4 linked regions of the Homo sapiens genome follow. The protein of the gene in region 3 purifies or fractionates together with the protein of the main gene of each other region. This does not show direct contact. Each region holds a gene or a part of one and is shown on either strand. Other genes may lie near its edges.

Region 1 (7,717 bases), on a different chromosome or scaffold from region 3:
GTCACAAAACCAAAGCCCCTGGAACGTTTTGTTTGGGGGTCTCTCATTACCTACAAAATAAAAAGTTTTATAACGTTGAAAACACCTCCACCGGTTCTCTACACCCCTTAGAACCCTTCTGTTCTCTTAGTAACTTACCACACAATCTGTGAGTGTGCCCCATTTCTCAAAATGTTCTCGTAAACTATCATCTGTAGTTTCAAAGCTCAGACCACCAATAAACAGTTTTCTCAACTGCTCTGGTTCCTTTGGATCATGGCCCTGAGAGAAAGAACCAATACTCTTAAGTTACCTTACAGTAGATGAATTAAGATGCACGAAGAGCCTTTAATGTACGGTAAGTAATAAAATCAACATCAAATTCCTGTGACAGTTAACACTTTGTCCAGTTAAAACTTTGACCAGACACCGGCGCGATGTCTCATGCCTGTAATCCCAACACTTTGGGAGGCCGAGGCAGATGGATTACCTGAGGTCAGGAGTTCGAGACCAGCCTGGCCAACACGGCGAAACCCCATCTCTACTAAAAACACAAAAATTAGCTGGGCGTGGTGGCGGGCGTCTGTAATCCCAGCTACTCGAGAAAGGAAAATCGCTTAAACCCAGGAGGCGGAGGTTGCGGTGAGCCAAGATCATGTCATTACACTCCAGCCTGGGCCATAGGAGCGAAAACTCCGTCTCAAAAAAACAAAACAACAAAAACTTTGACCAGAAATAAGACTTCAACTGTTAAAGGGGCTAACTTATGTCAAGGAAACCTATAACCAGCCTTTCAAATGCCAGCATCACTTCAACTAAATTGAAATCCAAGACAATTCCAGAATCAAAAAATCGCTTCATTTTTTAAAAGCTACAACTGTCTGAGAACCTTTACTTTAGAAGTTGCTAGTAAGTCATTTTCTAAGGCACTAAACTGTTGGAGAAGCAGTGTTGCATCTATCCCATTTCAACTCTTCTCAGTCTACAACCCAACATGCATTTAATTTTTTTGTTTGTTTTGTTTTTGAGACTGAGTCTCGCTCTGTCGCCCAGGCTAGAGTGCAGTGGCGCGATCTCGGCTCACTGCAACCTCCGCCTCCCGGGTTCACGCCATTTTCCTGCCTCAGCCTCCCGAGTAGCTGGGACTACGGGCGCCCGCCACCGCGCCCAGCTAACTTTTTGTATTTTTAGTAGAGACGGGGTTTCACCGTGTTAGCCAGAATGGTCTCGATCTCCTGACCTCGTGATCCGCCCGCCTCGGCCTCCCAAAGTGCTAGAATTACAGGCGTGAGCCACAGCGCCCGGCCCATACATTTAAACTCAAAACTGTGATGAAGAACAATCTAAAAGTTCTGAATGTCAAACTTACAGAAACTCACTGCTTTCAAGCAAATTAATTTAAAACAGGCATTCCTAAGCCAAACCAGCATTTCCCAAAAAAACTGAGGAAAAAAAAAAGCCGATCAAATAGCTTTCTATAACCCATGTTTGTTATATGCTGCAAAAATCTGCAATTTACAACTCAATTTTAAGAGTCACAACTAACTGGCAAGTTGGACTTACATTAGGAATGGTATGTATTGTCTGACTATAAGAACGGAGTACAGCAAAACAAAAATTGAGATTTTTAAGAATTAAGATGTCTTGAAATTGTTTTATACTTTAGTCAAGACTTTTTAACACATTGCATGAACTGTCATTTAATGCATGCATTAAGGTTTCCTTCACCCGAAGTTCTTAAATAAGGGGCTCACATTTACATTCTAATGTCTTCCTGTGTCTCCTAGAGGTAGAGATGTTAAACCGTTTAATGTGAAGAGATTGTCACATGCTAGAAAAAAACGTTAATAGCCTAAAGCATTAATTCATGTAATCTCATCTTTTCAAGTCTTGGATAAATGTATTCGATTGACAATAACGAAATCGACAAAAATATTTAGGATCCACATTAAATGTACTGCAAAAACGTGAAAATTTCAACTCTGGTTGCAGTCCTCTAAATAAAATTCCAGGAAACTACAACCAGAGCCGACTCAAAGAATGGGAAAACATGAAGATAAAAAACATTTCTAAATTCTTCCTTAACATACTATACTCAAATTCTTCTCCACCCACCCTCCTCAGCGGCCGGAGCCGGGAAGGAGCTGGCTGGGTTGTTTTTCACATCTACACTCAAATTCTCAAAAATTAAGTCCTTCGCCCACATGGCGGTTTAAGAAGTGTAATGTAAGTACTTTAGCAAAAATATATCAGGAAGTATTTTAAAGCAGCAAAGTTTTTAACAATCTCGTATTTCCAACAGGATGCTGCGAAAAAAAGAAAAGGCCAATTATCGACTTCTCGCGGAGAGGACCCGTAAAAGGCCTAGAAAAGCGTCGGCAGAACTTCAGCGAAAGCACTACCTCCCCATGCTTCGAGGCCATTTGCGGCTTTTTCTGCCGGGCCGCCTCCGCCCTCTTCCCTCCAATCCCAGGCTCGCTTTCCCGGCGGCAGAGCGAGGCGGCGGCCATTGCGGGCCAATGCGCCATTTCGTAACGCGGCGGCGGATCAATGTCAATGTGGCCGCCGCCCGCTTGCTCGCTCGCCCGGATGTGCCTGCTCGTCCCCTCCCCTCCCCCACCACCTCCTCCCAACCGCTCCCGCCGGGGCCCGCCATGCCGCCCTCGGCCTCGCTTCGGAGGCCGCGCAGCCGGCAGGCCGGCTTCCCTCCCGAGGCCTCCCCGACCAAGCCGCGCCTCCAAGGGGCCGCCTGTGCAGCCGAAGGTGAAGGCGAGGCGGGCGAGGGGCCCCAAGGAGGTCTCCAACTCTCGCTCCCCTCCCCCTCCCACAGCCTGTCTCAACGCAAGAGCGCGGGACGGCCGACCCGGTCCACCCGGCCTCCCCGCTCCCACCGAACCAGGCCCCCAACGCCGGCCATTCCCCACCAACCCCCCGCTCTCCCCCTAATACCTCCTCCCCCCGGCGGCGACGGCGACGGCCGGAGTCGGGCTGGGGGCGACCGGGCGGCGGTTTTACCTCCATTTTGAGACCGGACTCGCCTCTTCCAACTCGAGTTCAATATGGGACCGAGAGGAAGAGGCGGGGCCAGTCGTCACGTGACGCGTTTTCCGCGCGCCGCCAGTCTGTTGGGGGAGGAGCGAATTGGGAAGGGGGCGGAGCCAAGCGGGCGCGAAGAGGGACTGGACCAGCGGGTTGGCGGGCGGAGGGCGGAGGCGCGGCGTGCCGCGGGAGCGCGCGCGCCTCGCCAGCTTTCAGGGGAAGAGGGCCTTTGCCGCCGTTCGCGTCAGGGCGAGTTCCGGGACGTCAGTGCGGTCTCCGCCAATGGTGAGCGTCCACGTAGAGGGAACGCCTTGTGATCGCGCGTCACCAGAGAGAAAGGCCTTTCCCTTTCTTCTCGCGCTTGTCCCTCATTCCCCACGCAGGCCTCTAGTTCTCCATTTCAGAATTCATTCTATTCCTGTGCCCGAAATAAAACCCACGTTTTTCTTGCTTGTAATTTAAAGGTTGCAAGAAAAACTCCTCGGCCCCTCGGACCATCTTTCCTGTTTCCAAATGCCGGGGACCAGTGTCTGTGACTGCGCCGCCTGCCTGAGGGCATGTACTGAAAAGCCCTGCGACTCCAACATGTGGGACTCACAAGCACCTTGGACAGGCCTCAAAACGCGGCTGACATACAGAATTTTTACCATTAACGACCTGAGGCAGGACTGGTGGAGGTCAGTTCATTAGTTACTGATCTCAAGAAACAAGTCAGGACTATTTTCTAATGTGCTTCTTTCAAGTTAGTGTGGAAAGAGCTGATGCATCTGTTGTAGCTGACGGAATTTAAGGAACTGAATAATTGACAAGATTTCCAGAAAAGCAGGGTCGCCAGATAATGCTACCTGTTTGCGAATGATTGTTACCGTAATGCTCTAGAGAGCTAATCCTTTCTCGGCCTAGTCAGATGATTTTAAATCATTTGATTTTACAGAGCTTTAGTTTCAGTTTTTTAAATGAAAATGGGGATGGGATTAGGTCATCTTCTAACACCCACGACAGCCATAAATTGATAATCTATGGATCCATATTTAAAGTTACTGATAAAAATAACCACAATTGACCAGCCTCCCTTCCCTGTTAGGAAATGCTTTATATTTTAATTTAGCAACCCATGTGACCAACCCTTTTAGAATTGAACTGGCTCTCCCTAGGAAAGGTTAGAAATCTAATCAGTTATAGTAAGTTTCTGTTAACAAATGGGGAGTGGTCGACTTGGAGTTTGGAAAAGGGGAGCGTAAAGTCTAAAAGTTTGTTAATTTATCTAGCCGTTGCTCCAGGAGGACCTGTGTTATAGTTTGGAAACATTTACAAAGGGTATTTTTGTGGGGCAGAAAACAGTTAGCAGTCCTTAATGTAATTTGGTTGAAATAACCGTTCAAACCAGACTCCTCCTGTTGCTTTGATTCCTTTTTCGCAAACTTTCTTATGTTCTACGTATCCAGGTGCTCCTGATGGCCAGCAATAGACTTGAGACATTGGAAGAATGTATAGCCTTAGCGTCTATTTAGTGTTAAGATTTTGTAAGTCTAATTACTGTGAAATAGTCCTGGTAACTTTATCGATTCTGGATACAAAGAAAAATGCAAAGTGAAAGACCTTTGGAAATTGCTATTCACACCAGAGTACTCTATGAGACATTACATAGGTGATCAAGAAGAGTGATCACCTGGCTGCACTTTAGGGTATGTTTGTCCAGGTTTTTCTAATAAGTTAATTCTAATCAATAACTTTTGTTCTAATTAGTAACTTTTGTATAAATGTTAATGTTAAATCGCGAAACAATGTGGGATGGGATACTAAGTTCTCTCCAGGAACATGAAATGTCAGCCCATTTATTCACATCTTTTTGTCCTCCCTATTGTATTGGTCCAGATTTGTTGTTCATCCTGACTGTATGCTGTTTTTAGACATTAGTTATTTTTTATGCTTTTGTCTAAACAAGCTCTGGCCGGGCGCCATGGCTCACACCTGTAATCCCAGGCCTTTGGGAGGCCGAGGTAGGCAGGTCACCTGAGGTGGAGAGTTTGAGACCAGCTTGACCAACACGGTTAAACCCTGTCTCTACTTTTAAAAAAAATACAAAAATTAGCCGGGCATGGAGGCACACGTCAGTAATCCCAGCTGCTTGGGAGGCTGTGGCACGAGAATCACTTGAACTCAAGAGGCGGAGGTTGCAGTGAGCTGAAATTGCCCCACTGCACTCCAGTCTGGGTGACAGAGCGAGATTCCGCCTCAAAAAAAAAAAAAAAAAAAAAAAAGGCCGGGCGCGGTGGCTCACGCCTGTAATCCCAGCACTTTGGGAGGCCGAGGCGGGCGGATCACGAGGTCAGGAGATCGAGACCATCCTGGCTAACATGGTGAAACCCCGTCTCTACTAAGAATACAAAAAAAAAAAAAAATTAGCCGGGCGTGATGGCGGGCGCCTGTAGTCCCAGCTGCTGGGAAGGCTGAAGCAGGAGAATGGCGTGAACCCGGGAGGCGGAGCTTGCAGTGAGCCGAGATCACGCTGCTGGCTGGGCGCAGTGGTTCAAGCCTGTAATCCCAGTACTTTGGACGGCCAAGGCGGGCGGATCACCTGAGGTCAAGAGTTCGAGACCAGCCTGGCCAACATGGTGAAACCCTGTCTCTACTCAAAATACAAAATTGGTCGGGTGTGGTGGTGGGTGCCTGTAGTCCCAGCTACTCAGGAGGCTGAGGCTGGAGAATCGCTTGAACCTGGGAAGCGGAGGTTGCAGTGAGCTGAGATCGTGCCATTGCACTCCAGCCTGGGTGACAGAGCGAGACTCCATCTCAAAAAATAAATAAATAAATAAACTTAAGGTCCAGTTATGTCTCAGGTACAAAAACCACTTTTCCAGTCCTTGACCCTGTAGGGCACAGACTTGAACCTTGGCTATGGTCTGCACTTGCAGCCCTGACTCTTTGATATGAGAAAGGGAGTGTATGGGATGGGAGGAGGGAATGAGGGTCCTAGGGTGAGATGGGTGGCAGACAAACTTTATAATCTATATCAGGCCCTCTCCTTTATATCATGACATACAGAAAATAATCATTTTTGTACAGCATAGTAGGGTAAACTAGAAGATATTTGGAGGCATCTAAGTGGTGGTAATGTTTTAAGCATCTGATTTTGATAAAATACAAAGTATTAGGAATGATATTAAATATTGAATTTGCATAAAACTTTCAAATTAAAATTTTCCGTGTTTTTTAGTGATCAACTTGAACTTGTTCCTGTGAATACATTTTGATATTAGGTTTTATGGTTGAAGTGGCTTTATGCAGTTTCTGATCTAGACTTTTTTTTTCTTGAGACAGAGTCTCACTCTGTCACCCGGGCTAGAGTGCAGTGGCATGATCTCGGCTCACTGCAACCTACCACTCCTGGGTTCAAACAATTCTCATGCCTCAGCCACCCAAGTAGCTGGGATTACAGGCCCATGCTACCATGCCCGGCTAATTTTGTTTTTGTTTTTGTTTTGAGACAGAGTCTCTTGCTCTGTCGCCCACGCTGGAGTGCAGTGGCGTGATCTCTGCTCACTGCAACCCCTGCCTCCTGAGTTCAAGCTATTCTCCTGCCTTAGCCTCTCAAGTAGTAAGGACTACAGGCGTGCATCACCACGCCTGGCTAATTTTTGTATTTTTAGTGGAGACAGGGTTTCACCATGTTGGCTGGGTTAGTCTGGAATTCCTGATCTTAAGAGATCCGCCCGCCTTGGCCTCCCAAGGTGCTGGGATTATAGGCGTGAGCCACTGTGCCTGGCTGGAAGAAGGTAACTCATTTTGTTTGTTTTTGAGACAGAGTCTCGCTCTGTCACCAGGCTGGAGTGCAGTGGCACAATCTCGGCTCACTGCAACCTCCGCCTCCCGGGTTCAAGTGATTCTCCTGCCTTAGCCTCTCAAGTAGCTGGGACTACAGGCGCTCACCACCACACCTGGCTAATTTTTTGTATTTTTAGTAGAGACGGGGTTTCACCACGTCAGCCAGGATGGTCTCCATCTCTTGACCTTGTGATCCACCCGCCTCGGCCTCCCAAAGTGCTGGGATTACAGGCATGAGGGAAGAAGGTAACCCTTAAAAGGGAGGAATTGTAATAAACTATAAGCTTTGTTATGTGCCATTATATTCAGAATATACCAAAGCTTTATTTTCTAAAATCTTGATTTTTAAATAAGGAGTTTATAAAGTAAAACACACACAAAAAGTCTTTCCCCACAAAATCCTATTACATAGATTTGACCATGATCAACAACTTATTACATATCCTCTCACATTTTCTTGTTGGCCTAATCAATGCTTATATATATGAAACAAACATATTTGTTTTATTTTTACCAATGTATGTCTAACTATCCAGATTGATTTGAAATTTCCTTTCTCTTCCACTTAACAAAGTTATTTACCAAACTCTTACTATGTGCCAGGCAATGCTAGGTGCTGGAAATTCATCATAGTCACTCACATTATTGAATACTACTGTATACCTTGTAATGGGCCACGTACATTATGTTCCTGATTTCATTCCCTTAATAAACTTAGGAGGGTAAATTCTCCCTAATCTGGGATGTAGGAAAGTTGAATACATTGACTAAAATTATATAGGCCCTGCAAGTAAAGTGCTGAATTAGAATGTCATATAATCACTGTATTTACATTTTAATATTCTTGAAGGTAACAACCTTTTCTTTAAAAATC
Region 2 (7,022 bases), on a different chromosome or scaffold from region 3:
TTCAACTAGAGAGGAAATGTATGCATCATTTATGAATATCAAATGCTGTGTTTTACATTAAAAAATCTTGTTTGATTGTCTCAACAATCCTATGAGTTAGGTACTATTATAATTACTTCATTTTATAATGAAGAAATGTTAAGAAAATTGCCCAAATTTAAAAAGAGCCAGAAAGCTAAGATTTGCAACCAGCCCTCTTGTGCCAAATACCTAAGCTATGCTCCCTCTTTATTAGAGGCAAGATATAAGCAAAGATATCTTGTATTTGAAATTTTTGTTTCACTGTCCTGTCTAATTAGCGGGGTTTTTTGTTTGTTTTTTTTAACAGCACTTTTCAGGATTAGAAGAGGCTGTGTATAGAAACATACAAGCTTGCAAGGAGCTTGCCCAAACCACTCGTACAGCATATGGACCAAATGGTAATTTCTAAATTAATATTTGTAAAGATACAGTAGTAGAATATTGTGTACTACGTCTTCTTTCAGACTTGTTCTGAGGATGTTATGGTATGACTTCGGAAGTTAATTTGATAGCTCAATGATAGTTCATTTCCAATTTTTAGTTATTTCTAATTTTCAATCAACTCACATCTCTTTAGAAAAATGGGGGTCAATATATTACTTTTTATCCTGTTGAGAGGATAGAAAAATTATAACACTTTGACTAGTAAGATAGTACCTAATGTTCATTCTGACAAACACTAAATATAAAAGTGACATAGTTTAAGGAAGAAAATTCTCTCCTTCCTCTTGCCTTCTACCACCAATTAAATTTAAATGATACAGTTTCATGGAATAAACATACAACTAAATATACTAAGTAGATTATTTTGGCCTTTTTACATGTTAATTTCTGTTGAGCACTTGCTGCATGACAGTCATGTTGCAAACAGAAGATAGAAATTGGCAAAAATGTGAGATTTGGCATCTTACGTAGTAAATATTGTAGGACATTAGAAAGGGAAGAAAGAATATGGGTCTGCAGTCAGAGAATGCCCATGGGGCTATAAGATAAACTTGAAGAATAGATAGTATGTGTTTTCTTGCAAAGCTCTTTTTTTAATATACAAATTTATAATTTCTTAACTAGATTTTCCTGGGTATTTGGGGAAGGATTTGATTAATAATGGCTTTCTTTTTCTTTTTTTAACTGTTACTTTTGAGGAATGAACAAAATGGTTATCAACCACTTGGAGAAGTTGTTTGTGACAAACGATGCAGCAACTATTTTAAGAGAACTAGAAGTAAGTTGTTTCTTTAAAAAGTCAAGAAATATTTTGGTGACATCAAAATTAAGTAGATTTTAACTAGAAGAAATCTCTTATTTCAGATTGGATAAGGGACTATTTTTCCAGCTTGAAAATTTATTGTACAGATTGTTCTAATTATAAAGAGTCCTCTTTAGATTGAATGTTTTAGCCACTGAAATCTTAAAAATCTCTCAAGTTATTAATTTATGGAGGGATTGGTTGTGATACATTGCTAATTACGATATGAAATTGATTACCATTGTCTTCATTCTATAGGGTGACTCTGAAGTGAATTATTCCACAGTGCAAAAACGTATACATATAACAGTGGTTTTTAAAAAGATCCAACCATTTGGTTTTGTGAAAATAAAAACAATCAGTTGATGGCATTTTACTTTGTTCAGCTTTAGTTTTACTATTAGAATCTATAAAATAGATACTGCCTGCCAGCAGGGTTATAAGGAAGGTCTGGCACCTGAACAGGCAGAGAGAGCCATTCCTCATTCCCGCCTTGTAATTAAAGGATAACATATTCAACCTCAGGGAATTTTCCTGAAGCTTAGCCCTTGAAAGCACTAGAACTTAATCTTTTGTTTTAAATGAAACGATAGAAGAATCAACATTTTTCTAACCTCTTAAATAATATATTTTTGGTTGGACGCGGTGGCTCACGCCTGTAATCCCACCACTTTGGGAGGTCAAGGCAGGCGGATCACCTAAGGTCAGGAGTTTGAGACTAGCCTGGCCAACATGGTGAAACCCCATCTCTACTAAAAATACAGAAACAAAATCAGCCGGGCGTGGTGGCACACACCTGTAGTTCCAGCTACTCAGTAGGCTAGGGCAGGAGAATTGCTTGAACCTGGGAGGCGGAGGTTGCAATGAGCCAAGATCGCGCCACTGCACTCCAGCCTGGGCGACAGAGCAAGACTCCATCTCAAAAAAGAAAAAAAAATACATATTATATATATAAATTCTTAAAGAACTTAAGTTAAAAGTTAAATTTTAACTCCACAAAACACTTGTACAAGGGTTTGTCACTGTGAATGTTAATGTTGCACACTGATGATCTCAGGAGTTATTAAAGTACAGTGGTGATACCGTCAAAATAATAAAATCACAGGGCTGACTTTTTATAGTTTTCTTGTTGCTCTCAGTTCTTACTCCTTGGCTTGTTTCTGTAAAGGTATCTAAAATTAAATCCTAAGAATAAAATCCACATAAAATTATGTTATATTTGAAGAAAAGTTTTATACTCCCCCTTTTCTTTAAATCACAAATGATAACCCTTACAACAAGAATATATAGTAAAATAGATATTGAGAGTCATGACCAAGTTAAGTGGTATCTATTTTAGTTCTCCTGAAGGCTTTTAAAAAATATCTAGGTTTGGTGGTTGTAATTACTTTGTTTTTTAATTTAGTGAAATATGATATGGTGAAACATATGTGTGGCACTGTATGTGCAGGCCACCAAAAGAGGATGCACTTTGAAATTCTTATTTATAGTGATACATTTGTGCTGATCGGCATAAAGGGACTTGGATTTTTTCTTGTGACCACACTATAAGTAGCGTATAGCAGTGTAGCAGTGTGATCAGATGGAGTTACCTAATCTACAAGAAAATTGAGTCTATTTAAGAAATGGAAATGAACAATTTTATGTTGCTTTAAGGATCAGATGTTTAACTTGATATTACCTTTTCTACTAGGTACAGCATCCTGCTGCAAAAATGATTGTAATGGCTTCTCATATGCAAGAGCAAGAAGTTGGAGATGGCACAAACTTTGTTCTGGTATTTGCTGGAGCTCTCCTGGAATTAGCTGAAGAACTTCTGAGGATTGGCCTGTCAGTTTCAGAGGCAAGTGTTCATTTATAATTTACTCCTACTAAATTTTTGCTTACATATACACCTGCTTAAAACATAAACTAAAATCATTATTATAGTAGTAGCTAACATGCACTGAGCAGTTTGCTCTGTACCAGCCATTATAGTACATATGCTTCACATGCTGTATCATTTTAGTCTCACAAAAACCCTATTAGTGAGGCCTTATAATCCCATTTTATCTATTTTTTTTCCCACTTTATTTTAGATGAGAAAAGAGACTAAAATTAGAAAAATCTTGCCCAAGATCTCATAGCTAGTGAGTTAGGTAGAGTTAAGATTCAAATTTGGGCTGTCATCTAAGCCTCCATTCATAACTAGTAGAGTCTACTATATGTTTTATTCCGAAGTATATTCTTTGTCATTTTGTATCAAAAATAAACATCCATATGCATTGGGTTACCAAAATAAGCTACTTTAAGTCATGTCAGAATAGGAAATGTTGTTTATGTTTTAGGTCATAGAAGGTTATGAAATAGCCTGCAGAAAAGCTCATGAGATTCTTCCTAATTTGGTATGTTGTTCTGCAAAAAACCTTCGAGATATTGATGAAGTCTCATCTCTACTTCGTACCTCCATAATGAGTAAACAATATGGTAATGAAGTATTTCTGGCCAAGCTTATTGCTCAGGCATGCGGTAAGTAAATATCAGTAAATGAAAAGATCCAAAATAAAAATACCTTTAACATGACTAGATACTTTCTCTGTTGTCCCAAAATAATCTTTTGATATGTCTCATTTTCTTAACAGTATCTATTTTTCCTGATTCCGGCCATTTCAATGTTGATAACATCAGAGTTTGTAAAATTCTGGTAAGTAGAAAATGCATTAATGCTACATATCTAGGTCAGTTTTTTTGTGTGCTTTTTTTGTTTTTTTGTGCAAAAAAAAAAAAATGTGTTCATCTAAACCTAAATGTTACTTCATGATTTGAACACTTAGGACTTTTTTTGAGGCATTATTTTTATTTATGTACTTATTTATTTTTGAGACGGAGTCTCGCTCTTGTTGCCCAGGTTGGAGTGCAATGACATGACCTCGGCTCACCGCAACCTCCGCCTCCCGGTTCAAGTGATTCTCCAGTCCCAGCCTCCCGAGTAGCTGGGATTACAGGCATGCGCCACCACACCCGGCTAATTTTGTATTTTTAGTAGAGATGGGGTTTCTCCGTGTTGGTCAGGCTGGTCTCGAACTCCCGACCTCAGGTGATCCACCTGCCTTGGCCTCCCAAAGTGCTGGGATTAACAGGCGTGAACCACCGTGCCTGGCCTTTGAGGCATTATTTTGTAACATTTTGATGTTGCTAAGTTGTAATAATACTACTACCTATTTAAGTTTAAAAGGATATTGACATATTATCTCCTTATAAAGTCATTTTCTGTGATGTCTTGTGGGTTTAAGAATAATGTATAAACAAAATACTAAATTTTTTTTTTTTTTTTTTTTGAGATGGAGTCTGGCTCTGTTGCCCAGGTTGGAGTGCAGTGCCTCGACCTCGGCTCACTGCAACCTCCACCTCCCAGGTTCAAGTGGTTTTCCTGCCTCAACCTCCCAAGTAGCTGGATTACAGGTGCATGCCACCATGTCCAGCTAATTTTTGTATTTTTTTAGTAGAGGCAGGGTTTCACCATGTTGGCCAGGCTGGTCTCGAACTCCTGACCTCATGATCTGCCCACCTTGGCCTCCCAAAGTGCTGAGATTACAGGTGTGAGCCACCGCGCCCAGCGCAAAATACTAATTTTTTTGTGTTCTTCATAATACTCTGAATTATAATAAGCTTATAAGACAGTTTTGAGTGGGGTGGAAATCGTCCTATTCCTCTTCAATAATAGAATTCACACTTTAATGTTAGTATTGAAATATTAAAGTATATTTTTGATAAAATGTGCTTGATAGAGTAAAACCTATCAGTGGAATGGTTTTGGTTTTGCACATTGGCATTCTGATTGTTAATGTGAATTTAGCATAACATAAGTACATGTGCTTTCCCTGAAGATACTCACGTGTTCTATGTTTGCTGTCTCCCTCCACGTACTGCCAGCTTTTCCCATTAAATGCAACCTTGTGAGAACAGAATCTTTGCTTTGTTCTGTGTTGTATTTGCAGTACTGACAGCTGTGGCTGGTATATTGGCACCAAGTACTAGGTAACTGAATGGCTAAGACCAGTTCTCTGCCTTTGGTTCTTCCCAGTACATGGAAGGACCTCCCCTCCCTAAAAGTAGCTCATTCCCTCAGTGATTTCTGCCTCGAGCAGAAGGGTGTGCTGTATGTCCACCACTCCACCCCTTATCCCAGGAGTCACTGCCTTGGTTTATGACTTTATTTTAGAAAGGGATATTTTTGGTATATGGAGAATCAACAGTTTGACCGTAATGTTATTTTCAGGAGATTGCTGATGAGTTTGGTATTCAATTCCTTAGGGCTCTGGTATCAGTTCCTCTTCAGTATTGCATGGCATGGTTTTTAAGAAGGAAACCGAAGGTGATGTAACATCTGTCAAAGATGCAAAAATAGCAGTGTACTCTTGTCCTTTTGATGGCATGATAACAGAAACTAAGGTATGTAGACTTCAAACCTTAAAAGTAATAATTGGGGTTGCACTTTCAGATTGTTTGAGTTAGCTCTTAAACCAGTAAGTACTTCTTAAAAAACTGAACATTGCAGGATCTTACCTATTTTTTTATGCCAGATTTATAGTCTTCAAATATCTAATTCAACTACTGAACATTAAACTGGAAATATAAAGATGGTGGCCGTATTATTTATAATCTGACACACAGCCCTTCTAGTAGAGCTTATACATTCAGCAAGTGAAAGAATATGAGAATGTGAGTATTTTGTGTGCTCTTCACGAAAATAAAGTTGACATTCTGTAGCATCCTAAAACAAGATAAGCTAATGTAATTTGAAAATGGTAAGTATGTTTCTAAAAATACATGTTAGAAAGTTTGAAGTTTGTGTTTATAGTCAATAGTGGCTGACTTCATCTCTAGAATTCTTGAAATCCAAGTTGTTGATAGTTTTAAAATTTTGTAGCATGAGGGGGGTCTGGTCATTTGGTCCATATTTTATTTTATTGTATTTTATTCTTTTTTTTTTTTTTTTTTTTTTTTTTTAGAGTCTTGCTTTGTCACCCAGGCTTGAGTCCAGTGGTACAATCTTGGCTCCCTGCAACCTCCGCCTCCTGGGTTCAAGTGATCTCTGGCTAATTTTTGTATTTTTAATAGAGACAAAGTTTCACCATGTTGGCCAGACTGGTCTCCAACTCCTGACTGCAAGTGATCCACCCGCCTTGGCCTCCCAGAGTGCTAGGATTACAGGCATGAGCCACCGCGCCCGGCCTAGTCCACATTTTAGAAAAAGTTTGAGAACCACAATGTTGTATTGGGAACACTAGTTAGCCTTTGTCAAAAGACAAACACCAGGACACCTACCTACCTGACATATTTAAAATAAAAGCACTTCTCGGCCGGGCACGGTATCTCACGCCTGTAATCCCAGCATAGGCCAAGGCAGGCAAATCACGAGGTCAGGAGTTCAAGACCAGCCTGGCCAACATGGTGAAACCCCGTCTCTACTAAAAATGCAAAAATTAGCTGGGCGTGGTGGCGCTTGCCTGTAATCCCAGCTACTTGGGAGGCTGAGGCAGGAGAATCGCTTGAACCAGGGAGTCAGAGGTTGCGGTGAGCCGAGATCCTGCCTGCACTCCAGCATGGTGACAGAGTGAGACTCTGTCTCAAAATAAATAAATAGATAAAAGTACTTTTCCACCTAAGTACTTATCAAAAGCAGATGCATCTGTTTTGACAGGGGGTTCTAGAAGCAAGCTGAGTTTCTATTTCACACATACAGTATTCTGCTGCTTCATAATATATGCACATA
Region 3 (7,394 bases):
ACTTTAGGAGGCTGAGGCGAGTGGATCACCTGAGGTCAGGAGTTAAAGACCAGACTCACCAATATGATGAAACCCCATCTCTGCTAAAAATTAAAAAATCAGGCTGGGCACGGTGGCTGAAGCCTGCAATCCCAGCACTTTGGGAGGCCGAGGTGGATCACGAGGTCAGGAGTTTGAGACCAGCCTGGCCAACATGGTGAAACCCTCTCTATCAAAAATACAAAAAAATTAGGCAGGCATGTTGGCACACACCTGTAATCCCAGCTCCTTGAGGTTGAGGCAGGAGAGTTGCTTGAACCCAGGAGGCACGGGTTGCAGTGAGCCGCAATTATGCCACTGCACTCCAGCCTGGGAGACACAGCAAGACTATCTCAAAATAAATAAATAAATAAATAAATAAATAAGCCGGGCGTGGTAGCTTGCACTTAGTAATCCCAGCTACTCCGGAGGCTGAGACAGGAGAATCGCTTGAATCCCCAGGAGGTGGAGTTTGCAGTGAACTGAGATCACCTCACTGAACCCCAGCCTGGGCAACACAGGGAGACTCCATCAAAAAAAAAAAAAAAAAAAAAAAAAAAAAAAAAAAGAAGGAAATCCCAAAACCCGGGCAGGGCAGTTACCCTGGATCTCCACATCTGGTTCATGTCTCCAGAAGAGACAGGAGTCCCACTTTGGACACCTTGAGTTTGAGAAGCCTGGGACACCCAAAAAGCTTCCCAATGCACAGGTGACCATGTGGGTCAGGAGACACACCTGCACTCAAAGGCTTGGACTTTTAGCACATAAGGCTGATGACAGAAGAGACTGCACAGAGCAGTGATTCTCATCTTGGAGGAGGGTACCTCTCATCTCTAAGTCACTATATGAAATGAGATATCACTGATGGGAGTGAAGGTGATGCCACATCAGTGGTGTGGAGGACAAAGATACTTTGGAAAGAACCCTGGGTACGAGAGGAAAGAGTGAGGGCGAGGAAAAGAAAGAAACTGAGATGAGTCAAAAGGAAAAGAAAACCAGGAGAGTGATATCACAATTCCCCAAACTCCTATGCCCTTTTATGCTTCTCATGACTTTCTCCCTTCACTTAAAAAAAACTCGACTCATGTTTCATCCAGATCAAATGCCACCACCTCCTGAAAGCCTTTCTGGACTTACCCAAGTAAAACTTATTAGCCCCCTCTCCGTGCCTCTACAAGTTTCTTTTGTTGTTACTATTAGGTAAGATTTGACTCAGACAATAGTTTCATTAGTACTGTTAAGGCACTTACTGCAGTCCGCTCTGTACTACACCTGGGGTGTGTGTCTCCCCTATTACACTGTGAGCTCTTAGGTGGATTAAAAAATTATTCTTTCGCTGAATAAATATCCAGATGGGGTCAGGCACCCTGGCTCAGGCCTGTAATCACAACACTTTGGGAGGCTGAGGCAGGAGGACCACTTGAGCCCAGGAGTTCGAGACCAGCTTGGGCAAGACAGCGAGACACCATCTCTACCAAAAATACAAAAATTAGACGGATGTGGTGGCGCGTGCCTGTAGTCCCAACTACTTCGGAAGCCGAGGTGGGGGGATCACTTGAGCCCAGGAGACAGAAGCCGCAGTGAGTCATGATCGTGTCACTGCGCTCCAGCCCGGGCGACGGAGACCCCGTCTTTAAAAAAAATGTTTGTTCAAAAGTCCAGATTGGTAAATAATTAGGCAGAAACTATAGGTAACTCCTACACTCATTCTTCATTCTTCCTGTAAAACAAAATAACACATCCTAATTAATTCGATTTATAAATTCCGTTCCTTAAAGTAACACCCACCTGTCCAGTATTTAAAAATCACTGCTGACTAAACACAAATATTCGCTCCACAAAATGCCTATCCTGTCCCAACAATGATGTAAGCATTTCCTTCATCATAAATATAAAATGCCCCGAATTTAGTCGTAGACTTGACATATCTCGCTCTTTTCCAAATAATTGTAAATTCTGTACAAAACACACGCACCAAAAAAATGTCACCAAGATGCAAGAGGACGTAAGAGGGAGTCAACCTTGGAACTGGGCCAACCGCCGCCTGCATTACTGGGAAGCCACTGCTGCCAAGCAAAGGTCAGGCATTCATTCAGGCAACATTTTTTCCAACAAGTGCTTCACACTCGCACGCACACACACGCTCCTTTAAAAGTCAACAACAATTAAAAAAAAAAAAAAACCTCTCTAATGCCACTCCTGAAAACTAGGGCTGAAAGCTAAGTGCGTCCAACCGACAAGAAACCCAGGAAAGCTGAGTAATCCCCGAGTCCAAGTGGACGGTCACGCCAAAAGTCCACACGGGTGTGGCCCACCTACGGCGAAGCTGTATGGGAGAAGCCCGGGCTCCAGCCTCCCGGTTCGCCGAGCCCGCGTCCCCGCCGCCCCATCGGGAAGTCTCAGCGGCCGGGAAGGGGGAGGGGGCAGGAACGCCTCGGAGCCGGACGACAATCACTTCCCGGGAAAGCGGCTCCCAGACAAGCCGCCCCAGGGAAGGAAGGCGGCCGAGGGGCCCGGCGCGGGGCTGCCGCGCGCGCCGAGGCCGCGGTAACAAAGTTTGGAAACCGCGAGAAAACTTTTCCAAGAGGAAACGCGGCGGCGGCGCTGGGCCTATAGTTTCTCCTCCCCAGCCCAGGCGGCCCCCCGACTTCCCGAGCGCTGGGAAGCGCCGGCCGTGCCCGCCCGGGCCCCATACTCGGGCCCTGCGGGGGAAGGGACCGCCGGCCCGACGCGGGTCCCACGCCCGCCCGGGGCCCAATTCCCGGCGACGTCGCCAAAGAAACCGCGCCCCGCCCGCTCGCCCGCCCGCGGCTCGCGGGGCCCAGCTTGGGACGGCCCGGCCCAAGGACCCTCTCGGCCTGGCCCGAGAGACCGCGCCCGCGAGGAGGGAGGTACGAAGTTACCTGCGGCTAGCTGGGCGAGCGCTAAATTCCAGAGGCCCGAAGCAGACGGGCGCTGCTTTGTCTCCCTCCAGTCCGGCTAGGAGGAGGAAATGGGCCGCCCCACGCCCCCGCCCCCGGCCCGCCCCCCGCCCGCGGCCCCCGCCCCTGTCCCGGCCCCGCCCGCCCTTCCTGGCACCTCCCTCCGACTCGCTCTTCCCGGCGCCTCCCGCCGCCGCCCCGCCCGCTCCTCCCGGCCGTTCCGGCCTCCGCTTTTGGGGAAAGGGAAGGCCCCCACCGCGAAGAGAGTCTGGCAACGCCGGACCGGGACCCCCGAGGGACCTCTTCCTCCCCGCCGCCCACCTCAGAATTCCTTCCTCCCCGGCCCCTAGTGGGAGCTTAGGCCGGGAGTGACCCCTGAGAGGGAGGAGGAGCGGTGACTCCTGGAACAGCCCGCGGGCGGAGAGGGCTGCGCGAGGGCAGGTGAGTCACCGCTCCGCGCACAGGTGAGGCTCAGGGGCGGCCTCGCGCGGGCCCCCACCCCGGCGGAATCCCAGAGACGCGACCAGGGGTACTGGGCACGCTCCCCTCAAGAGTGTCACAGGTGTCCCGGAGTCACAGTCTTCTGGAAAAGTGATCTAGGCCAACTACCTGGCTTTACAGAAGGAGAAGCGGAGGCTAAGGAAAGGCCCCACAGCTTCGGGACACAGTGGAACTAGAATCTGACTCTCAGGACCTTTCATAATGTGAGGTGGAAGCGCCCCTAGAATTCACCTAACCCGTCCCCTCACTCCACAGATGGAAACACCCGAAGCCCTCTTGATCAAGGACTTTTTTTTTTTTTTAAGACGGGGTCTCCCTCTGTCGCCCAGGCTGGGGTGGAGTGTCGCGATCACGGCCCACTGCAGCCTCAAATCCCTGGACAACCGACCCTCCCACCTCAGCCTCCGGAGTAGCTGGAACTACAGACACAGAGTCTCACTATGTTGCCAGGCTGGTCTCAAACTCATGGGCTCAAGAAATCCTCCTCAGCCTCCCAAAGTGCTGGGATTACAGGCTAGAGCCACCTTGCGGGGAGGACATTTACAAACACAAAAGAGGCACCGCAGCAGCTGTCCCTTTTTGGGCTTGTTCCCGCCCCGCCCCCAGCACGTCCCCCCTCCCAGCTTGTCCCCCTCCTCCAACAAATTTGAGGGACCTGACTTCTATCTCTATTCCTCTGGTCATTTGGGGCATTTTATTCTTACCCTTTCTTATCTTCATAGTGAATACTCCAAAAACAAAAGAAAACAAAATTACAAAGCAAACAAACAACACAAAAAAACAAAAACTACTACATGCTCACTATCATCCTGGTATAGAAAACCCTAATGATGTTTCCCCTGCTCACGGGATGATGAATAAGATAGATTTCAGTATTGGCCTATAAACCTGAATAATGCAAGACGACGATGTCCACTGCTGGCCTTGTGCTGAATAGAGAGCAGGGTGCTAGGGAGACCTGCCCTTACCGTGTTTACCCTCTACTCCTCACATCTCCCTCTCCCCCAAGGGAATATAAACTTCTGGAAAGCAGGAGCTGTATCTCCTGCAGCACCCAGCACATTGCCCATCCCCTAGGGAGTGCCTAGTGAACATCTGTGGGTGAATGTGCCCACTGTAATTCAAAGTACTGTGGGCCTGTGCTAGTTAACAGATGCTGACAAAGGGCAATAGGACCATGAAGTGGGGAGAGAACAACCTTTAAGAAAAAGAGGATGGGCACAGTGGCTCACACAAGTAATCCCAGCACTTTGGGAGGCCAAGATGGGTGGATCACATGAGCTCAGGAGACCAGCCTGGGCAAAATGATAGAACCCTTGTCTACAAAAAAATACAAAAACATAGCTGGGTGTAGTGGCACCTACCTGTAGTCCCAGCTACTTGGGAGGCTGAGGTGGGAGGATCGCTTGAGCCTGGGAGTTCAAGGCTGCAGTGAACCATGACTGCACCACTGCACTCCAGCCTGGGCAACACAGTGAGACTCTGTCTCAAAAAGAAAAAGAAAAAGGCAAACCCTGACAAGGTCATTCTTGTCCAACTACCCCTGTCCTGTTTCTGGCTGCAGGGTCTTTGCTCCTGTAGTCTCCTCTGCCTAGAGTGGCTTTGGCGTCCCTCTACTTCACCTGGCTAACTCAGAACATAATTCATATATTTTGGATATTTGTCCCTGCCCAAATCTCACATTGAAATGTAATCCCCAGTGTTGGAGGTGGGGCTGGTGGGAGGCATTTGGGTAATAGAGGAGGATCCCTCATGGCTTGGTGCTGTCCTCCAGGTACTAAGGGAATTCTCATGAAATGTAGTCGTTTTAAAGTGTAGCACCGGCCAGGCACAGTGGCTCACACCTGTAATCCCAACACTTTTGAGAAGCCAAGGTGGGCGGATAGCTTGAGCCCAGGAGTTCGAGACCAGCCTGGGCAACATGGTAAAAACCCATCTCTACAAAAAAATACAAAAAAATTAGCCAAGCAGGCTGGGCACCGTGGCTCACGCCTATAGTCCCAGCACTTCAGGAGGCCAAAGCGGGCAGATCATCTGAGGTCAGGAGTTCAAGACCAGCCTGGGGCAACATGGTGAAACCCCATCTCTACTAAAAGTACAAAATTAGCAGGGCATGGTGGCATGTGCCTGTAATCCCAGCTACTCGGGACGCTGAGGCAGGAGAATCATTTGAACCTGGGAGGCAGAGGTGGAGCCGAGATCACGCCATTACACTCCAACCTTGGCAACAAAAGCAAAAGTCTGTCTCAAAAAAAAAAAAAAAGCCAGGCATGGTGGTGTGTGCCTGTAGTCCCAGCTACCTGGGGGGCTCAGGTGGGAAGATCACCTGAGCCTGGGGAGATTGAGGCTGCAGTGAGCCATGATTGTGCCACTACACTCCAGCCTGGGCAACGGAGTGAGACCCTGTCTCAAAAACAAAAAGATGTGGCACCTCAGCCCCCTCCTGCTCCTGCTTTCAGCATGTAATGTGCCTGCTCCAGCTTCACCTTCCACCATGAGTAAAAGTTCCCTGAGGCCTCTCCAGAAAGTAGAGCAGATGCCCAGGCCTTGCTTATACAGCCTGCAGAACCATGAGCCAATTAAACGTTTTTTCTTTTTTCTTTTCTTTTTTTTTTTTTTTTGTGTGTGTGTGTCTGTGTGTGACGGAGTTTCACTTTTGTCACCCAGACTGCAACCTCTACCTCCTGGATTCAAACGATTCTCCTGCCTCAGCTTACCAAGTAGCTGGGATTACAGGTGCACACCACCACGCCCGGCTAATTTTTGTATTTTCAGTAGAGACGGAGTTTTACCGTGTTGGCCAGGCTGGTCTCGAACTCTTGACCTCAGGTGATCCGCCTGCCTCAGCCTCCCAAAGTGCTGGGATACAGGCATAAGCCACCGCACCCGGCCTGTTTTTTCTTTATAAATTACACAGTCTCAGGTATTTCTTTTTAGCAGTGCAAGAACAGCCTAACACAATAGTAATCAGTCAATAAAGTATTTGGATAAAGTAACAAGAGACAGAGTTAAAGGATTATGCTCCATAACTTTGTATATTCATCATTTCACTCGGGACAAGATTCTTAATTTTAAGGCCCCTTGTTCAAAAACTATTAACCATTTTAAGACAGCAACAGCAGAGTATTAAACCAAGCATGGGCTCTTTCTTTATTATTATTATTTTTTTATTTTTATTTATTTATTTATTTATTTTTGAGACGGAGTCTTGCTCTGTCACCAGGCTGGAGTGCAGTGGTGTGATCTCGGTTCACTACAACCTCCGCCTCCTGGGTTCAAGCGATTCTCCTGCCTCAGCCTCCCAAGTAGCTGGGACTACAGGCGCCTGCCACCACGCCCAACTAATTTTTGTATTTTTAGTAGAGATGGGGTTTCAGCATGTTGGCCAGGATGGTCTCAATCTCTTGACCTTGTGATCTGCCTGCCTCAGCCTCCCAAAGTGCTGGGATTACAGGTGTGAGCCACTGCGCCCAGCCAGCATGGGATCTCTCTAAGCATGGGACCCTGAAGATGAAATTACAGGGTTTGTTTTGGGAAAAGAAGGGTAAGGTGACAGGAAGATATGAGAGATTTGCAGTGTGCCTAAAGAGAGTCAGTTTCCTACTCCTGAGAAATCGTGAAAAGCTTACCAGGGAAGGCTGGAGCATTCTCTATATCCCAGGCACTTGCTGTGTGCTGAGGAAGTGAATAAAAACTGAGACTGACTTGATCCCTGTTTTCACACCACTTAAAGGTAATGATGAAGACAGATACTAAAACAGGTAAACTGACTGGGCACGGTGGCTCATGCCGGTAATTCCAGCATTCTGGGAGGCTGAGGCGGAGGATCGTTTGCGTTCAGGAGTTGGAGACCAGCCTGCACAACATGGCAAAACCCTGTCTTTACAAAGGATACAAAAATTAGCTGGGTGTGGTGGCATGCACCTGTAGTCCCAGCTATGTGGAGAGGGCTGA
Region 4 (6,953 bases), on a different chromosome or scaffold from region 3:
TCCCCTTGCCTTCTAAAGGGACAGCTCCAAACTTCAAGGAGAGAACACCCATGCTAAGGAGGCTTCCAGACTCCTCTGGGCTTCCTGACTTTGTCTGGGACTGTCAGGGCAGTGCGGGGAACAGAATGAGGCCCTTGCACCTGCCTATTTGAACCTGCCCAGCTGCTCGGGAGCTGTGTGACCTTGGGTTCATCTCTTGCTTGCTGAGCCTCAGCTTCCTTATCTGTAATGGAGGCAACAATAGCTGCCTCCCTGGGCAGGAGGATTAAATGAGATCATGGGTGCAAAGCCTGGCACACAGTAGGTGCTCAGTAAGGGTGCAGGTGTCTTGACTCCTATCTACCCGCCCTCTCCAGCCTGGTGGGTGTGGCTTTGACTGGCCAACTTACGCTTGACCTCATTTCCTGGCTCTACTCTGGGCCCACCTCCTACTCTTTCTGTTCCTCTGCAGAAGGAAATCTCATTCACCACCAGCCCGGCCTGCCCCTGGGTCCCACTTCCTCCTCCTTCTAGTATCTGGACCTGCCAGGATCTGACTGTTTTGCTATGGTCCAAGGCAGACAACCTGGAAATCCCTGAATTAGTTTAGGGACCATCCCCTACTCTCAAGAGATGGGAAGACTGAGGTGCAGGCTGCAGAGGGGCTGCCCAAGGCCTCCTAGCATCTGGGATTCCCACTCTTCCTCCAGCAAGCCCTCCATGATTTACCCACTTAACACCAGCTTGAACCTGGATCAGGACAGACTTTTTAGTATCTCCTCAGCCAGAGGTGAAGCTCCTGAGGCCCTGCCTCCTAGAACATTCCTTCCCCTGGTATCACTGGGCTCCTGGCTTGTCCCTGTGCCTGCCTCTGTGGCCTGGACTGCTCTGCTTTCCCCCTCTCTGAGCTTCACTGTGGAGTGTGGCATGGACTGTGGGTCAGAAGGAACCGCACTCACCCTGCTTCTACCTTGTGTTGGTTGTGTGACCTTGGACTGGCTGCACAGCTTCCCTCAGCCTCGATGGTCCCATCTGTCAAATGGGAATTCTCATAGTTGCTTCAGTGTGACTGAGGGGGTGCAGAGAGAGGATACAGGGAACAGTCATGGGTCCATGTGGGCAAAATGAGCCTAAGATTCTTCCTGGGATGGTGTCCCCTCTGTCCCCTGGGTGTCCCCAAGTCAGCAGTGAATCATCCAACTTTGCAGAAAATGTGTGGCCCCTGCTGGCTTCCTGCCCTCATGTCCGGCCCTTGTTTGGCAACACAATAGCTCAGGCTGAGGCTGCAGGCGGGCAGCTTAACCCCTTCCAGGCCAGTATACACCTCCCCTACCCCTCACCACCATAAGCTGAAATTGGTAGGGCTGCTCAGGGGCTCAGCAGCTCTTGGGCCCCTTGGTGGATACCTGCTGCTCTCTAGGGCAGGCAGAGGAGAGTCCCAGGCTTCCCACCACCTGAGGATGGACCAGGGCTTCTGGCCCTGGCTCCAGTGGCCTGTGGCAAAAGAGCCTTCCAGGTACACCCTCGACTCCTCAAAGCTGCCTCCCTGGGAATGCCCTTCCTCTCTTGTCAGAATCCTATCTGCCCATCACACATGAGAAACGTCCACGCTGGGGAGGGAGCCTGACATGGAGCAGAGGCCCAGAGGTGCTCGCGATGTCCTCTCACTTGCACCCCCTTCCTCGTACCTGCTGGGCACCTGAGGACCCCTCCGTGATGGGGTTTGACCATACCTCAAGGGCCAAAATCTTTATCACATTCACAACCAGGATCGGCTCTGTGCTAGCTGGTAAATCCAGCCACTATTCCTTAAAGATCTCATGTTATGTGCCATTCCCAGCACCAGGGATGTAGCTCACTTCACTCAATTGACTGAGGAAACACTGTTTCCCCATTTCACAGATGAGACACTTGAGACCTGGGGAGAGCTGGGGCTTTGGAGTACGAGATCCTGGTTCAAATCCCCACACCAGCTCATATGTTTCCAAAGCTCAGTTGCTTTCACTGAGATATAAAGAAAGAATGTATCTACCTTGTGGAGTTGTTAATGGTAAAATAATGAGCCCCACACCATCCCTTGTTCCCCACTGTGGTTTGGAAACTCTGGGTAACTTTCCCAAGGTCACCCCAGAGCAAATGGGAGAGCTGGGATCTGTACCCAGGGCAGCTGTCTCCAGGCCAGGCTCTTGGCCCAGACCTCCTGCTTCTGGGGGACTTCCTGGGCTGTGGGGGCCTTGGGGCTCTTATGCTCTAGCCTTTGAAAGGGTGCTGGTGGGAGGAATGGTGGACCGCTGTCCAGACTACAGCTCCCTTGACACATAGTGGGCCCCGATGGTGTTTGGGCAGGGAAAGGCCCAGAGGGAAAGGCAAGACCTCAAGTGCCCAGAGCCAAGCCTCAGCTTGCCTATCCTGAAATGGGGGCACTGGCTGACCGAGAGGGGCCAAGGCTCGGAGCTTCCTTTTCAGGGCCCCTCCCCAGATCCCAGCATAGAGCTTTAGTGGCGTATGGGTAGGGGGCTGAGGAGGCTGGTGTCAGGCCTTGGTAAATCCTCTCCAGTAAGGGTAAGGCACCGAGGGGAGGCCAAGGCCTGGGTGCCAGTCCTCTGCCCCGGCATGCTGGGCAACTGGGGCAGAATACTGCCCTCTCTGAGCCTGGCACTGATGAAGGCCAGTGGGCCTTTTTGAGTTGGAGAATACACTTCTGGGAGAGCCAAGCCCTTGCCCTGCCCCCCTCAGCCCCGAGATGCCCATTTGTGCCCTTGGCACTACCTCTGGGTGCACCTTCCCCGACCCTGCTCTGAGCCACGAGGAGGCCCAGCGTGCCCTCGAGGAGCCTCTCTGTCATGGGAGTGGGACGATGCCCATTCTACAGATGGGGAAGCTGAGGACCCTCCCATCTTGGGCGCAGGGTGGCGGGTTTGGGGTGGAGGGGAGTGTGGGAGCCCCCACTCACCGTGCCTGTGGGCTGAGGGATGTTTCTGTTCCGTTGGACTGCCTGTCCGTCCAGGGCTGAGCGTGAGTGGAGCTCTGTGGAGCCTGTCAGCCGACCGTCTTTGGAGGGGAGCCACACCCCGCTGGCGAGGGAGGCCTGGCTGCCTCCCCTTCAGGTTTTCCAGCTGGCCCTGGCCCACTTCCCCCTGGGATGGTTTCCTGTTATTGTTCCTTTGTGAGGGCTGGGCTGGCTGCAGATAGGCAGGCCCTGCGGTGGGCGGCTGCCTCGGCCCCGGATGGCTGTCTCCACAGAGGGCTGGCACTGGACCCTGCCTGGGGCACCCCACTTGAACCCCTACTCCCGGCCTCAGCTCTGGGACTCTGAACCCAGCACCTGCAAAGAGCCTGGCTGTGGGGACCCTTGGCTGCAGCATCACATTTAACCCTCCTTGGAATGCTACAGGCAGGTGTCATCACCCCCATTTTATAGCCCGGGAAGCTGAGGCTCAGCGGGTTTAAGGTGCTTGTCCACCCAGCTGGGGTATAAAAGAGCCAAAAATCTAGCTGGGGTCAGCCTAGCCCCAGAGCTTGATTTTCTGTGGTGATCCCATGATGTCTTTGTGGGAATGGACTTTAAAGGTGACAGGGAGGCTTCAGGAGATGGGAAAGGGACAGAAGCTCTTGGCTCTGGAGGACCAGGTTGGCTTCTCCTGGTCAGAGCGGGCATGGACTCCAGCTCTAAGGTGCCAGCCTCGGTCTGTAGGGGATGTTTGCATTTAGGGATATTGGGTGGAGTCAAGTGACCCAGCTCTGCTTCTGATGTGACCTCTGGCCAGTTGTGTCATCCTGGAGCCACAGTTTCCTCATCTGTAAAATGGGGATAATCACAGCCTCATCCTCACAAGGCTTTTGACATAAACGAGAATCAAAGAGGGGCGTGGAAGACAGTGACGCTGAGGCTGGATCAGAGCCCAGAAGAACCAAGAGGCTGGGGGGAAGGGAGGGGCCAAGATTCTGCTGACCAGGAGAGACATAGGAGGAGCTTCTAAAAACTACAGAGGACTGGGCTCACCCCAGATCAACTGATTTGGAATCTCCCAGGGCAGATCCTGGGAATCTGTCCTTTGAAGAGTTGCTTCTGTTTTTCCATGGGTGAATGGTTGGGAAGTCCCAAACTTGTTTTATTATATAGCTGGGCAAGCAGAGACCCTGAGAAAGAGAGGGCCCAGGGCCGTTTAGTAAATCAGAGCACAAGATGGGGAGTGTGATGGAAGGATATTTTTGGAGGAGGAGGGGATAGTGATTCCTCTGTCTCAGGCAGGTTGAGTTTGAGATGCTCGTTAGATACCCAGGTGGAGGTGTCAGGCTGGTGGGGGAGACAGGGGTGAGTCCAGCCTGGAGTCGAGGTTTGGAACCCAACAGCTTATGGCTGGCATCTGAGGCCATGGGCATGGATGAGCTTGGAGGGAGGGAGGACTTGGACCCTCTGACATTTGGGGATCCATTAGAAGAGGGTCCCATGATGAAGGAGGAATGCCAGGAGAGGGCAGAGGAGGAGGGCAGGGGAGTAGTCAGTGGGTCAGCCTGGGGAGCATGAGGGCTGAGACTTAACTTTGGATTTGGAAGATGAGGTCATCAATGACTGTGACCAGAACAGGTTAAACAGGAAAAGGTAGACAAGACAGATTGGAGGGGCTAGAGAAAGGGGAGAAAGGGGGACGGGGATGTGGAGTCACGTGTGACTGTAGCTTCTTCCCCAAGTCTTACAGTGAATGGGAGCAGAGAAGTGGGAGGGTTTTTTTTTTTTTTTTTTTTTTTTTTTTTTAACTATGGCAGCACGCTCATGTCCCCAGGGAGCATCCAGCAGACGGGAAGACAGATGATGCTGGAGACTGAGGAGCGACCTGCTGGAAGGAGAACAGTCCTTGGGGCGGAATTCTGAGTGGGATCCAACACATTCAACAGCCGATTGTGGAATGAACAAACAACAGCTCAGCGCTTCCTTCTCCAATGGGATTAACTCTGCTTTCTCCTGCCCAGAGGGGGGGTTGGCCGCAGAGGAGCCAGGACAGTGCTCTGTCCCCTGTGTTCCAGTCCACATCCCCCTCACCCCCGCCTGTCCTCATGGTCTACGTGCCCATGGGGATACACTGGCCTGTGCATTGCTTCCTGCTGGGTCTCAGACTCGGGGCTGTGGCAGATGGGGACAGGGCCTGTCCTGGCACCATCTGCCAATTCCCTTTGTACTCCCAGTCCATGAGGAAGTTGACTCTGCCCTGAAAACGACTGTTCCTGTGGTCCATAAACAAAGGAATGGTGAGCCAGGCATGAGCTGTGGGCCCCAGGGGTGGGGCTGGGGGTCACCGTAGCAGAGGTAGCTGAGACTGTGGGAGGGAGGCTGGTGCCTCCTTGGTCCCCCTGAGGATTTCATGCCTGATTTCTGGCACTGCCCAGCCTCTGCTCCAACCTCTCTGGAGGCAAAGGAGGTAACAGGAGGGCACAAGGCCAGGAAGTGTCATTGGGAGCAAGGAAGGCGGCTGGTGGGCTAGCAGGAAATGGGATGGTCTGTGAGACCAGATTAGTAGCAGAGGAGGAAGCAACAGTGGAGGCAGTGGGGGTGGGATGGCGGGTGGGACGACAAGGCCTGGGGACGCCCACCTGGCCTCTGCCAGGAGGAAGCCTGACCCGACAGGGAGCGCTGCTTGGGGAGGTACAGGTGTGGGGGTTGCAGACCCAGGTTTGGATCCTAGCATGACCCGTTGCTGCCTGCATGACCTGGGCAGCCGACTTGCCTCTCTGAGCTTCTTTCCTCACCTGTGAAATGAGTTATCTGTTCAGACTTTGCAGGCCGTTTGGAAGATGAAATGAGACAATGAAAATAAATGACAGGACCAGCAAGCCTTATCGAGTGGCTGTTTCTCAAAGTGTGGTCTTCAAGCCATCCATCCTGGGAGAGGGGGAGTGAATATGCAGATTTCTTGGGCCCCACTCCAGGCTGATGGGGTCAGAATGGCTGGTGATAGAATCCCAGGACTTATGTGTTTGTAGCTCCCCAGGAAACGTGTTTGTGTTGTTACATTTGAGGACCACAGCCTTTGTGTCTGCTGCTAATGCACTAAGCTCTCCTTGGGACTCCTCATTCAAACCTCAGGACAACCCTGCGGGGGTGGTACTACTGTTAGGCCCATTTTACAGATGGGAAAACAGAGGCTGGGAGTGAAAGCCTTTCTGAGATCAGAGTTTGTCAGTGGTGGGGCGGAAATTCCGAGCCACGCTTCTGTTTCCAGAGCCCAGCTCCTTACCCAGGGAGCTTTCCTGCCCTGCTGTAATTGAGTCGGGACACAGCAGGGGTTCCCCAAATAAGACTTCCTTTTCCTTCCTCCCCACAGCGTGAGACACCCAAGGATGGGGCAGGAAAACGATGCCATCAGCTTGGCAGGGGCGGTCGTGGTGAAGCCCTGCAGCCTCACGCCTCAGGACTTTGCCCATGCTGTTCCACCTTGTGTGTTTCCTTCTCTCTCCTTCCTCGCCTGTGCGCAGAGCCCTGGCAGAGCCACCCAGATCTCATTGTCTCTACACTCCACTCCCTCTTCTGAGCTCCCAGGGCACTTTATACAGACCTCATTCACAACCCTCCTCTCCTTTCCCACCGGGATTGTGTCCTATTTGGGTGCTTATCCCCAGCACCTGGTAATAGGTGAGTGCTCCCCAAATGTGAACTTGAAACTGTGCACTCATTAGAACCGGCAGTCAGCCCGCTGCTCCCCGGGTCAGAGAGACTGGGGGGAGAGTCGAGTGTTTTGTGTTCTAAGGCAGGTGATGGTCTGATGGCAGAGGGCTTGATGAGCCCATCTGCTCAGTTACGGGCAAAGGAAAAACCCTTTTGCCCAGCTGGCTGTGCTGTGCTGAGGGGCGGACACACCTCCAGGGAACATAAAATAGGGCTGCTCACCTGAGGTAGTCTCAGAAGGGGCTCAGAAGGAGGAAGAGCGGGAAGGAGGAGCAGGGAGGGGTCTCATCCTCAGCTGTGATTCTACAAGGAA

The links.
Region 1: the proteins of CTNNA1 (region 3) and HNRNPA3 purify together in Homo sapiens (co-immunoprecipitation; 2 studies listed by BioGRID and IntAct, with this or other methods). This does not show direct contact.
Region 2: the proteins of CTNNA1 (region 3) and CCT8 purify together in Homo sapiens (co-immunoprecipitation; 2 studies listed by BioGRID and IntAct, with this or other methods). This does not show direct contact.
Region 4: the proteins of CTNNA1 (region 3) and CDH5 purify together in Homo sapiens (affinity purification with western blotting; 5 studies listed by BioGRID and IntAct, with this or other methods). This does not show direct contact.

Annotation. Positions count from the first base shown.
Region 1 is NC_000002.12:177,208,083-177,215,799, reverse strand, and holds the start of HNRNPA3 (heterogeneous nuclear ribonucleoprotein A3), read right to left. Parts: upstream 3,007-7,717; 5' UTR 3,001-3,006; coding exon 2,929-3,000; intron 262-2,928; coding exon 139-261; intron 51-138; coding exon 1-50. UniProt on the Homo sapiens protein: Plays a role in cytoplasmic trafficking of RNA. Binds to the cis-acting response element, A2RE. May be involved in pre-mRNA splicing.
Region 2 is NC_000021.9:29,063,644-29,070,665, reverse strand, and holds part of CCT8 (T-complex protein 1 subunit theta), read left to right. Parts: intron 1-328; coding exon 329-419; intron 420-1,163; coding exon 1,164-1,243; intron 1,244-2,960; coding exon 2,961-3,110; intron 3,111-3,594; coding exon 3,595-3,775; intron 3,776-3,888; coding exon 3,889-3,950; intron 3,951-5,560; coding exon 5,561-5,698; intron 5,699-7,022. UniProt on the Homo sapiens protein: Component of the chaperonin-containing T-complex (TRiC), a molecular chaperone complex that assists the folding of actin, tubulin and other proteins upon ATP hydrolysis.
Region 3 is NC_000005.10:138,749,038-138,756,431, reverse strand, and holds the start of CTNNA1 (catenin alpha-1), read right to left. Parts: upstream 3,008-7,394; 5' UTR 2,922-3,007; intron 2,910-2,921; exon of another isoform or gene 2,334-2,909; intron 1,739-2,333; exon of another isoform or gene 1,269-1,738; intron 1-1,268. UniProt on the Homo sapiens protein: Associates with the cytoplasmic domain of a variety of cadherins. The association of catenins to cadherins produces a complex which is linked to the actin filament network, and which seems to be of primary importance for cadherins cell-adhesion properties.
Region 4 is NC_000016.10:66,362,738-66,369,690, reverse strand, and holds the start of CDH5 (cadherin-5 preproprotein), read right to left. Parts: upstream 3,001-6,953; 5' UTR 2,933-3,000; intron 1,049-2,932; exon of another isoform or gene 939-1,048; intron 1-938. UniProt on the Homo sapiens protein: Cadherins are calcium-dependent cell adhesion proteins. They preferentially interact with themselves in a homophilic manner in connecting cells; cadherins may thus contribute to the sorting of heterogeneous cell types.